Regions from separate parts of the Homo sapiens genome. Here region 1 is linked to region 2. Evidence: fine-mapped expression QTL. A gene starts in region 2. The other region holds a variant in brackets. All regions are shown on one strand. Distances are from middle to middle. Region 1 has its middle 99 kb from the start of KLF8. Region 2 holds the start of NBDY (negative regulator of P-body association).

Region 1 (5,380 bases), 400 kb after region 2:
ATATCATCACTGATCCTGCAGAAATACAAACAACCATTAGAGAATACTATAAACACCTCTATGCACATTAACTAGAAAATCTGGAAGAAATGGACAAATTTCTGACACATATCCCCTCCCAAGGCTGAACCAGGAGGAAATTGAATCCCTGAATAGACCAATAGTGAGTTATGAAGTTCCAGCATTAATAAATAGCCTACAAACCCCCCAAAAATTTAAAAAGCCCAGGACCAGACGAATTTACAGTTCAATTTTACCAGAGTTAGGAAGAAGAGCTGGTACAATTTCTACTGAACAAACAAAACAAAACAATAAAAACCTAGGACCAGGTAGATTTAAAGCTGAACTCTACCAGAGGTAGAAAGAAGAGTTGGTATGATTTCTACTGAAAGTATTCTAAACAATTGATATGGAGGGACTCCTCCCTAACTCATTTTATGAGGCCAGCATCATTCTTACACCAAAACCTGGCAGAGATAAAAATAAAAATAAAAATAAAAACACTTCAGGCCAACATCCCTAATGAACATCAATGCAAAAATCGTCAATGAAATACTAGCAAACTGAATCCATCAACAAATCAAAAAGCATATCCACCACGAACAAATTGGCTTCATCCCCGGGATGCAAGGTTGGTTCAATATACACAAATCAATAAATGTAATTCATCAAATAAACAGAACTAAATACAAAAACCACATGATTATCTCAATAGATGCAGAAAAGGCCTTTGATAAAATTTAACATCCCTTTATGTTAAAAGGTCTCAATAAACTATGTATCTAAGGATCATACTGCAAAATAAAAGAGCCGTATATGACAAACCTATAGCCAATATCACACTAAATGGGCAAAACCTGGAAGCATTCTCCTTGAATACTGGCACGAGACAAGCATGCTGTCTCTCACCACTCTTATTCAACATGTTATTGGAAGTTCTGGCCAGAGCAATCAGGCAAGAGTAATAAATAAAGGGTATTCAAATAGTCAGAGAAGAAGCCAAATTGTCTTTGTTTGCAGATGACATGATTCTATATCTAGAAAACCACATCATCTCAGCCCAAAAGCTTCTTAGCCTGATAAGCAACTTCAGTAATGTCTCAGGGTACAAAATCAATGTTCAAAAATTGCGAGCATCTCTGTACACCAACAACAGGCAAGCAGAAAGCCAAATCATGAATGAATTCTCATTCATAATTGCTACGAAGAGAATAAAATACCTAGGAATACGGCTTACAAGAGAAGTGAAGGATCTCTTAAAGACAACTACAAACCACTGCTCAAGGAAATCAGAGAGGTCACAAACAAATGGAAAAACATTCCATGCTCTTGGATAGAAAGAATCAATACCATAAAAATGGCCATACTGTGCAAAGTAATTCATAGATTCAATGCTATTTCCACTAAAGTCCCATTAACATTTTTCACAGAATTAGAAAAAAATTATTTTAAAATTCATATGGAACCAAAAAAGCCCATATAGCCAAGACAATCCTAAGCAAAAAGGACAAAGCTGGAGGCATTATGCTACCCAACTTCAAACTATACTACAAGGCTACAGTAACCAAAATACCATGGTACTGGTACGAAAACAGACACAGACTAATGGAACATAATAGAGAACTCAGAAATAAGGCCACACACCTACAACGAAGTGATCTTTGACAAACCTGACAAAAACAAGCAATGGGGAAAGGACTACCTATTTAATAAGTGGCTCTGGGGAAACTTGCTAGCCATATGCAGAAAATTAAAAACTGGACTCCTCCTTAAACATTATACTAAAATTAACTCAAGATTGATTGAAGACTTACATGTAAAACCTGAAACTATAAAAACCCTAGAAGAAAATCTAGGTAATACCATTCAGGACATCAGCACAGGCAAAGATTTCATGATGAAAATGCTGAAAGCAATTGCAACAAAAGTAAAAATTGAAGAACGGGATCCAATGAAACTAAAGAGCTTCTGCACAGCAAGATAAGCTATCATCAGATGAACAGATAACCTACAGAATGGGAGAACACTTTTGCAATCTACCCATATGACAAAGCTCTAATATCCAGAGTCTACAAGGAGCTTAAAAATATTTCCAAGAAATTTGGAGGGGACAATTATACAAACCATATCAATGTATCTATAGTGTTGGTTGGATAAGGCACTTAGGCTTTGATTCTGGATGAACACAGTAGTAGAGTCTTCATATAATTTCTTCAGCTATAATCAGTGTCAGTGTTGTCTTGTGAGTTCCTCAGAGTTCCACAGCCCTCAGGCTGTGGCTGTTAGTGGAGTATGTAGTGAGGCTTTATCAGGGGAA[A/G]TTCAGCCAGATATTGGATGAAATTCACCCACGAAATAAAGGGTCAGAGTACAAAAAAGAGAAATTTTAAAGCTGGGTGTCTGGGGGAGACATCACAGGTCGGCAGGTTCTGTGATGCCCCCTGAGCCACAAAACCAGCAAGTTTTTATTAGTGATTTTCAAAATGGGAGGGAGAGTATGAATAGGGTGTGGGTCACAGAGATCACATGCTTCACAAGGTAATAGAATATCACAAGGCAAATGGAGGCAGAGAGAGATCACAGAACCAAAGGACCAGGGTGAAATTAAAATTGCTAATGAACTTTCGGGCATGAATTGTCATTGATAACATCTTATCAGGGTTTGAGAGCAGACAACCAGTACGACCAAAATTTATTAGGTGGGAATTTCCTCATCCTAATAAGACTGGAAGCACTATGGGAGACTGGGGATTATTTCATTGCTACAGTTTTGACCATAAAAGATGGCCACCCCTCAAAGTGGCCATGTTAGAGGCCTACCCTCAGGGACACATTCTCTGTCTCAGGGATGTTCCTTGCTGAGAAAAAGAATTAAGCGAGCCAAGATGGCTGAATAGGAACAGCTCCGGTCTAAAGCTCCCAGAGTGTGCGACACAGAAGATGGGTGATTTCTGCATTTCCATCTGAGGTACCGGGTTCATCTCACTAGGGAGTGCCAGACAGTGGGCGCAGGACAGTGGGTGCAGTGCAGCATGTGCGAGCTGAAGCAGGGGGAGGCATTGCCTCACTCGGGAAGCACAAGGGGTCAGGGAGTTCCCTTTCCTAGTCAAAGAAAGGGGTGACAGATGGCACCTGGAAAATCAGGTCACTCCCACCCCAATACTGTGCTTTTCTGATGGGCTTAAAAAACCGCACACCAGGAGATTATATCCCACACATGGCTCGGAGGGTCCTACACCCACGGAGTCCCACTGATTGCTAGCACAGCAGTCTGAGATCAAACTGCACGGAGGCAGCGAGGCTGGGGGAGGGGCGACTGCCATTATCCAGGCTTACTTAGGTAAACAAAGCAGCCAGGAAGGTCAAACTGGGTGGAGCCCACCACAGCTCAAGGAGGCCTACCTGCTTCTGTAGGTGCCACCTGTGGGGGCAGGGCACAGACAAACAAAAAGACAGCAATAACATCTGCAGATTTAAATGTCCCTCTCTGACAGCTTTGAAGGGAGCAGTGGTTCTCCCAGCATGCAGCTGGAGATCTGAGAACGGGCAGACTGCCTCCTCAAGTGGGTCCCTGACCCCTGACCCCTGAGCAGCCTAACTGGGAGGCACCCCCCAGTAGGGGCAGACTGACACCTCACACGGCCAGGTACTCCTCTGAGACAAAACTTCCAGAGGAATGATCAGAAAGAATCATTTGTGGTTCACAAAAATCTGCTGTTCTGCAGCCACTGCTGCTGGTACCCAGGCAAACAGAGTGTGGAGTGGACCACTAGCAAACTCCAACAGACCTGAAGCTGAGGGTCTTGACTGTAAGAAGGAAAACTAACAAACAGAAAGGACATCCACACCAAAAATCCATCTGTACATCACCATCATCAAAGACCAAAAGTAGATAAAACCACAAAGATGGGGAAAAAACACAGCAGAAAAACTGGAAACTCTAAAAAGCAGAGCACCTTTCCTCCTCCAAAGGAACGTAGCTCCTCATCAGCAATGGAACAAAGCTGGATGGAGAATGACTTTGATGAGATGAGAGAAGAAGGCTTCAGACGACCAAACTACTCTGAGCTACGGGAGGAAATTCAAACCAAAGGCAAAGAAGTTGAAAACTTTGAAAAAAATTTAGATGAATGTATAACTAGAATAACCAATACAGAGAAGCACTTAAAGTCGCTGATGGAGCTGAAAGCCAAGGCTCGAGAACTAAGTGAAGAATGCAGAATCCTCAGGAGCTGACACAATCAACCGGAAGAAAGGGTATCAGTGATGGAAGATGAAATGAATGAACTAAAGCAAGAAGGGAAGTTCAGAGAAAAAAGAATAAAAATAAATGAACAAAGCCTCCAAGAAATATGGGACTATGTGAAAAGACCAAATCTAGATCTGATTGGTGTATCTGAAAGTGACAGGGAGAATGGAACCAAGTTGGAAAACACTCTGCATAATATTATTCAGGAGAACTTCCCCAATCTAGCAAGGCAGGCCAACATTCAGATTCAGGAAATACAGAGAATGCCACAAAGATATTCCTCCAGAAGAGCAACTGCAAGACACATAATTGTCAGATTCACCAAAGTTGAAATGAAGGAAAAAATGTTAAGGGCAGCCAGAGAGAAAGGTCGGGTTACCCACAAAAGGAAGCCCATCAGACTAACAGCGGATCTCTTGGCAGAAACTCTACAAGCCAGAAGAGAGTGGGGGCCAATATTCAACATTCTTAAAGAAAAGAATTTTCAACCCAGAATTTCATATCCAGCCAAACTAAGCTTTAGAAGTGAAGGAGAAATAAAATCCTTTACGAACAAGCAAATGCTGAGAGATTTTGTCACCACCAGGCCTGCCCTAAAAGAGCTCCTGAAGGAAGCACTGAACATGGAAAGGAACAACCGGTACCAGCCAGCACAAAATCATGCCAAATTGTAAAGACCATCGAGGCTAGGAAGAAACTGCGTCAACTAACGAGCAAAATAACCAGCTAACATCATAATGACAGGATCAAATACACACATAATAATATTAACTTTAAATGTAAATGGAATAAATGCTCCAATTAAAAGACACAGACTGGCAAATTGGATAAAGAGTCAAGACCCATCAGTGTGCTGTATTCAGGAGACCCATCTCACGTGCAGAGACACACATAGGCTCAAAATAAAGGGATGGAGGAAGATCTACCAAGCAAATGGAAAACGGAAAAAGGCAGGGGTTGCAATCCTAGTCTCTGATAAAACAGACTTTAAACCTAGAAAGACCAAAAAAGAAAAAGAAGGTCATGACATAATGGTAAAGGGATCAATTCAAGAAGAAGAGCTAACTATCCTAAATATATATGCACCCAATACAGGAGCACCCAGATTCATAAAGCAAGTCCTGAGTAACGTAC
Region 2 (5,380 bases):
AATTAACAGATAATCCAAGAAAATCTATACATTATTAGAATAAACAGAATTTAAGAAGGCTCCAGCATATAAAATAAATATACAAAAATATCAATCATGTTCCCATTTACTAGAAACAATTAGAAAATGTAGTTAAAAAGATGATATATTTCACAGTAATAATAGAAACTATAAGTACAAGTGAATCTAACAAAACATTTCTTCAGATTACACTATTATTATGAATATGTTTTCATATAATGTAGAATATAGTTTCAATTTTATCATTTGCTGCTATCTTTTTGAGTTTTGTTTGGCTACTTTTTAATGTGTCAAAACCAACTCTTTTTTTTCTCTTCCTCCTCTTAATAATTTTTGGTAAAGAGATTACCTTAAAAAGCACAACTTCCAGGTTCAGGACACCAGAAAAAGCAGGGTAGCATTGTAAATAATCTTCATTGTTTTCACCAGGTGAACTATTATATGAATGCACCAGGGAAATGGAGTCATACTGCAATCACTCAAAGACTGAAAAATAGTAAAAAATATTGTGGCATCATTTTTTCTGTTTTTGTCCATCTCTTTGTCCCTTGGTCTCCTCAAATCATTATCCTTCCCATACCTCTATTTCAATGATTTATTCCTATAAAACAGTTGTATACATAGTATTAGAAGGGATGTATTATATAGAAGTTTAGAGCATAAACTCTGGAATCAGGTGTTCTGGGTTCAAAGCTCAGCTCAGCTACTTCTTGCTGTGTAACTTGTGGCAAGTCATACAACTTCCCTTGGTCTATACAAACTTCTCTAGTAGAGTTGTGATTAAATAAATTATAACATGCAAAGCCCTTTAGAAAATTGGCACATAAATCTTCAGTAAATATTGGCTATTATTACAATTATCAGTGATTTGAATCACTTGGAGGGGAAATTATGTAGCTACTGCACTTATTGTTTTGTTCTTTTGTTTTCTTTTCTTTTTCCTTTTTATTTTTTAAAATTATTTATTTATTTATTTTTTACACCGAGTCCCGGTCTGTCGCCCAGGCTGGAGTGCAGTGGCATGATCTCGGCTCACTGCAATCTCTGCCTCCTGGATTCAAGCGATTCTCCTAATTCAGCGTCCCGAGTAGCTGGGATTATAGGCACACAACACCATGACCGGCTATTTTTTTTTTTTTTTTTTTTACTTTTAGTAGAGATGGGGTTTCGCCATATTGGCCAGGCTGGTCTCGAACTCCTGACCTTAGGTGATCTGCCCACCTCAGCGGCACAAAGTGCTGGGATTACAGGCGTGAGCCACTGCGCCCGGCTGCTCTTTTGTTTTCTATCTGAGCAATTTTCTCCCTACTCCCTGCAACCTTCCACTCCACTACCCCTTTGAATAGAGGTAAACATGTGAGAAGTAAAACTGTATGGAATGACAGGGAGATGCTTTCAAGTAAAATAGATTTCTATTTTTTTTTTTCTATGCATTACCACCAAACCCAATGTCTAAAACTTTTTTGGTCGCCAAAGTTGTCCCATCATTCATTGATTTATTTATTGAAATATCTGTTTCACTCCTATTATGTACTAGGCACTATGCCTTGGCCATCCATCCCCTACAGCTCTCAGAATAATTCCTACCCATTGCAAGGGCTTCATAAAGGTTTACTGCACGAATGAAGAAAAGATGCTTCTCTCCTTTGAATTAAAAGGATCTATAAAACTTGGGTCAGATTCAGTTTTATAATTTGCATTCTATAAAGTTCATCTAAATATCAGAGATTCCTTTTCTGATAGTAAGAATAGGAATCTTAAAATACAAATAGTAGCACTTGATGGATATTGGAATGAAGTATATGCTCAGCATAACATTTAAGGCCCTGAAGCACTTTATCTTCACCTCCTAGTCCTTCTTGTAGATTCAAAATTATAGCCAAGCTGTTTCCAGAAGAATTCTGCCTTTTCTCTGGAAACCCTCGGCCTGAAAAGCATTCCCTGCCCCTCCACATGGCAGATGTCACTCAACCTTTAAGGCCCACCCAAAGTTCCTCCTTCCTTTTTTTTTTTTTTTTTTTTTTTTTTTTTTTTTGAGACGTAGTTTTTTGCTATTGTCGCCCAGGCTGGAGAGCAATGGCGCGATCTCGGCTCACTGCAACCTCTGCCTTCCAGGTTCAAATGATTGTCCTGCCTTAGCCTCCCGAGTTGCTGAGATTACAGGCGTCCACCATCACGCCTGGCTAATTTTTGTAACTTTAGTAGAGACGGGGTTTCACCGTGTTGGCCACGCTGGTCTCGAACTCCTGACCTGATCTGCTCACCTCGGCATCCCAAAGTGCTAGGATAATAGGCGTGAGCCACCGCGTCCGCCCCCCTACTCCTCCTTTTTGATGGCTCATGATTACTACCAGGCAGTGACTTGGTCCATCCTCCACCCTTCCTGAATACCTTGAACAAGCAAACATTATGGCACTTGGATTTGACTATCACATTGTAGCTTTAAAAAAAAAAATTCAACTCTCCTGCCTTACACAGAGAAAGACATACACTTCTGAAGGCTGGCCTTCAACAGATGCTTTTTATTGGCCTTGAACCAGCCTTTTTTTTTTTAACAAAAAAATTTTCCAATGCACGCAAAAGTAGAGAGAATAATATAATAAATCCCTACATATACATCACCCAGCTTTAAATTATCAACTCATGAGCATTTTTATTACACTTTCCCTCCACCTTGGCACCAATGACTTACTTTCAAGCAAATCAAAAGATTCAAGTCTATTTCTTAGAAAATATAACTACAATTATTTCATCTAAAATATTACAAATAATTATTTAATGTCGTTAAATATCCATCATTTCATTCAAGCATATTTTGTGAAAGAGCTGCTTAATCCCTGCATGTTATTTTTTCTATTTTGAAATCATGGAAAGAACAGGGAAAAGGGGAAGGAAATTTGTGAGAATGCATAAATAAGTTTCAAAGAGCCTAGATGTCCTAGATGAGAAAGAATCTGACCTGGTTTAGGGTGGGAGAAATTTATTTCTCTACTTCTCCGGAGGAGGAGGGTGCGACTTCAGGCCGGCTGATGCAGGAGGAGGTGCGGAGGGTAGAGTGGTACTACCTCCGTTGGGAGTTCCTTCCGGATAATCCCAACGCGGAGCGAGGAGGCAGCGCTTTTTTGGAGGCTTGGCTTCCCGTGCGTTTCCAGGTGGGAGAGTGGATCTCCCGGAGGCACAAGGTTGGTCTCCCATAAGGATTACAGAAACGGGTCGTCAGTTTTCTCCGGTGGGCCCTGGCAAAGCCAAGAGACCTGAGATGGCGGCGAGTCCCCTCCAGGCACAGAGCTGGCTTCCTCCTGTTTCGCTCTTACCGTATTTCCTGTATCCTGAGACGTACATCCCTTCTCCGCCTCCACCCCTCCTCCCTACCCCATTCTATTTTAATGTTTCTATTAGGATGGGTGTTAAAAACCGATGTCGTTATTTAATATAGTGTTTTTCCATCGCGCCCCACCCCCACTAAATGTAAATAAATTTATTGAGAATTTAATATAATTTATGCAATTTTAAGATGAGAAGAAATTCAAGTTTACCTTTAAGTGGTAAACTCTGAATGGCTTATATGTGTGGGAGGGACGCGGGGGTGGGCGGTAACCAAATAAATTATTGAAGAGCTTTACAAGCCAGCTGCAGATGCACATCACAGAGCTGTGAAACTAGCTACAAACATTTAAAAAGCAATATGCAAACATGTAAGTTGACTAGAGTGCAGAATAGCACACTAGCACAAACCATGGAAATTGAATGTGGAAAATGAATTCACCGTATGTCATAGAATCTAAGATCATTTTTTCTTTATTTTTTAAGCAAATTTGTAATTTTTGAAGGCTTATTATGTTTTTCCCCAAATTTGAATATCTAGGAAATCTCTGCGACCTAACAATTGATGGTACACTATACTTTAGTTGGCAGCTTTTTTTTTTCTTTCTTGTAGGTATGGAAAATAATGACCCATCTTACTAGTGATGATATGTTATATTCTATGATTTATGGTAACCAGAAGAAAGTACCACGTGTCTCAGAAGAAAAGGCTTCTGGAACTTCTTAGACCTTCATTATTAAAATAGCCTACACATCCATCTCCCTTTAGCTATGGACAAACTAGATCACACTTCTTCAGCTTTGTTCTCAGTGCTTTTTGTTTGTTTTTTGTTTTTTTAAATGGAGAGAGCTTAGTCCTTAATGCCAGAGTAGAAGTGCCTGTTAAACTCTGCTGTTTACAAGCTCTGAGCTCTTTGAGTAATTATTTAAATTCTTGGAACTTTGGTTTCTAGGCCATAATTTTTTCCTTGCAAAGGTGTTTCCATAACCAGGGATAATACATGTAAAGCATTTACTACTATAACTATCTCTTATCTCCACCCTTCTACCTTCCTCCAAGTAACCAGCACAGCCCTTTACACAAATTAGGTACTCAGTAAATATTTGGGAAATAAATGACCCCGTGGTTTTGTGCCAAATGCTACTAATAAAGACAGAAAAGTCAGATGTAGCTGTAGCTTAATGAAAAGATGTGAGGGAGGCATTGAGAGAGGCAATATTTTAGAGCTAGAAGAGTAGTTGGAACTAGACATACTGATGTGGGAGACAGCAACATAGAGGTGATAGTTAAAGACAAGGGAATGGATTATATCCCCAAGAGAAAATCTAAAGGAAAAATAATTGAGCTAAAAACAGAATATTGAGTAATTAGAGACAGATAGAAGAAAAGAAGTCTGCTGCAAAGGCTGAGAAAGAGTGGTCAAAGTCAGCGAAGAAGATTCTAACCCAGAGTTTCTCAATCTTGGTGCTATTGACATTTGAGGCCAAATCAATCTTTGTAGTGGTTGCCAGAGTTTACCGTTTAGCAATGTCCTAAGCTAAGCCTCTACCAACTATATGCCAGTACTACTCCCTACTCCTCAAGTTGTGATAACCAAAAAGATTTCCAAACATTGCCAGATGTCCCCTCGGGTACACAATTGTCCCCAGTTGAGAACCATTGGTCTATCCTTAATCCACCAAATTTGCTCCTTTCCTAGTTTTTTTTTTCTTTCATCTCAGTGAAATGTTATGCCTTCCACTCAGATATACAAGTCAAACTTTGGAGTCTTTATTTTTAGAAACTGAAGAATATTTTATTATTTATTCAAGTAAATGAAGTAACAATTTCACAGTCTTTTTACATAGGTCTCTAAATCTTCACGACTAAAGACATTAAGAGTTGCAGTTAAGTCGTTCTATAGCTATAGTTTTAGCAAATTAAGAGAAATATGTGCCTCGTTAGTAAAGTAACAGGAATTAAAAATTTTATCAACTCCAGCTAGGTTTAATTTACGGTAAACATTTGACTTGAGGTGAAAACAGTCCCAACTTA

The links. PIP is the estimated chance that this variant, and not a neighbour inherited with it, causes the effect. A credible set is the group of variants that fine-mapping cannot tell apart.
Region 1: its variant is the best candidate, but not a certain one, in a credible set for the expression of NBDY in whole blood (TOPMed, PIP 0.60).

Annotation. Positions count from the first base shown.
Region 1 is chrX:56,328,636-56,334,015 of GRCh38, reverse strand. No RefSeq gene overlaps it. Among named protein-coding and RNA genes, the nearest start is that of KLF8, 99 kb to the right of the region's middle. The variant A/G (reference allele first, on the strand shown) is at 2,318.
Region 2 is chrX:56,727,190-56,732,569 of GRCh38, reverse strand. NBDY (negative regulator of P-body association) reads right to left here and starts at 3,327. Exons shown (of 3, transcript NM_001348129.2): 1 at 2,981-3,327; 2 at 371-507. The coding sequence starts at 3,216. The coding sequence ends at 3,010. RefSeq lists an enhancer at 3,207-3,286.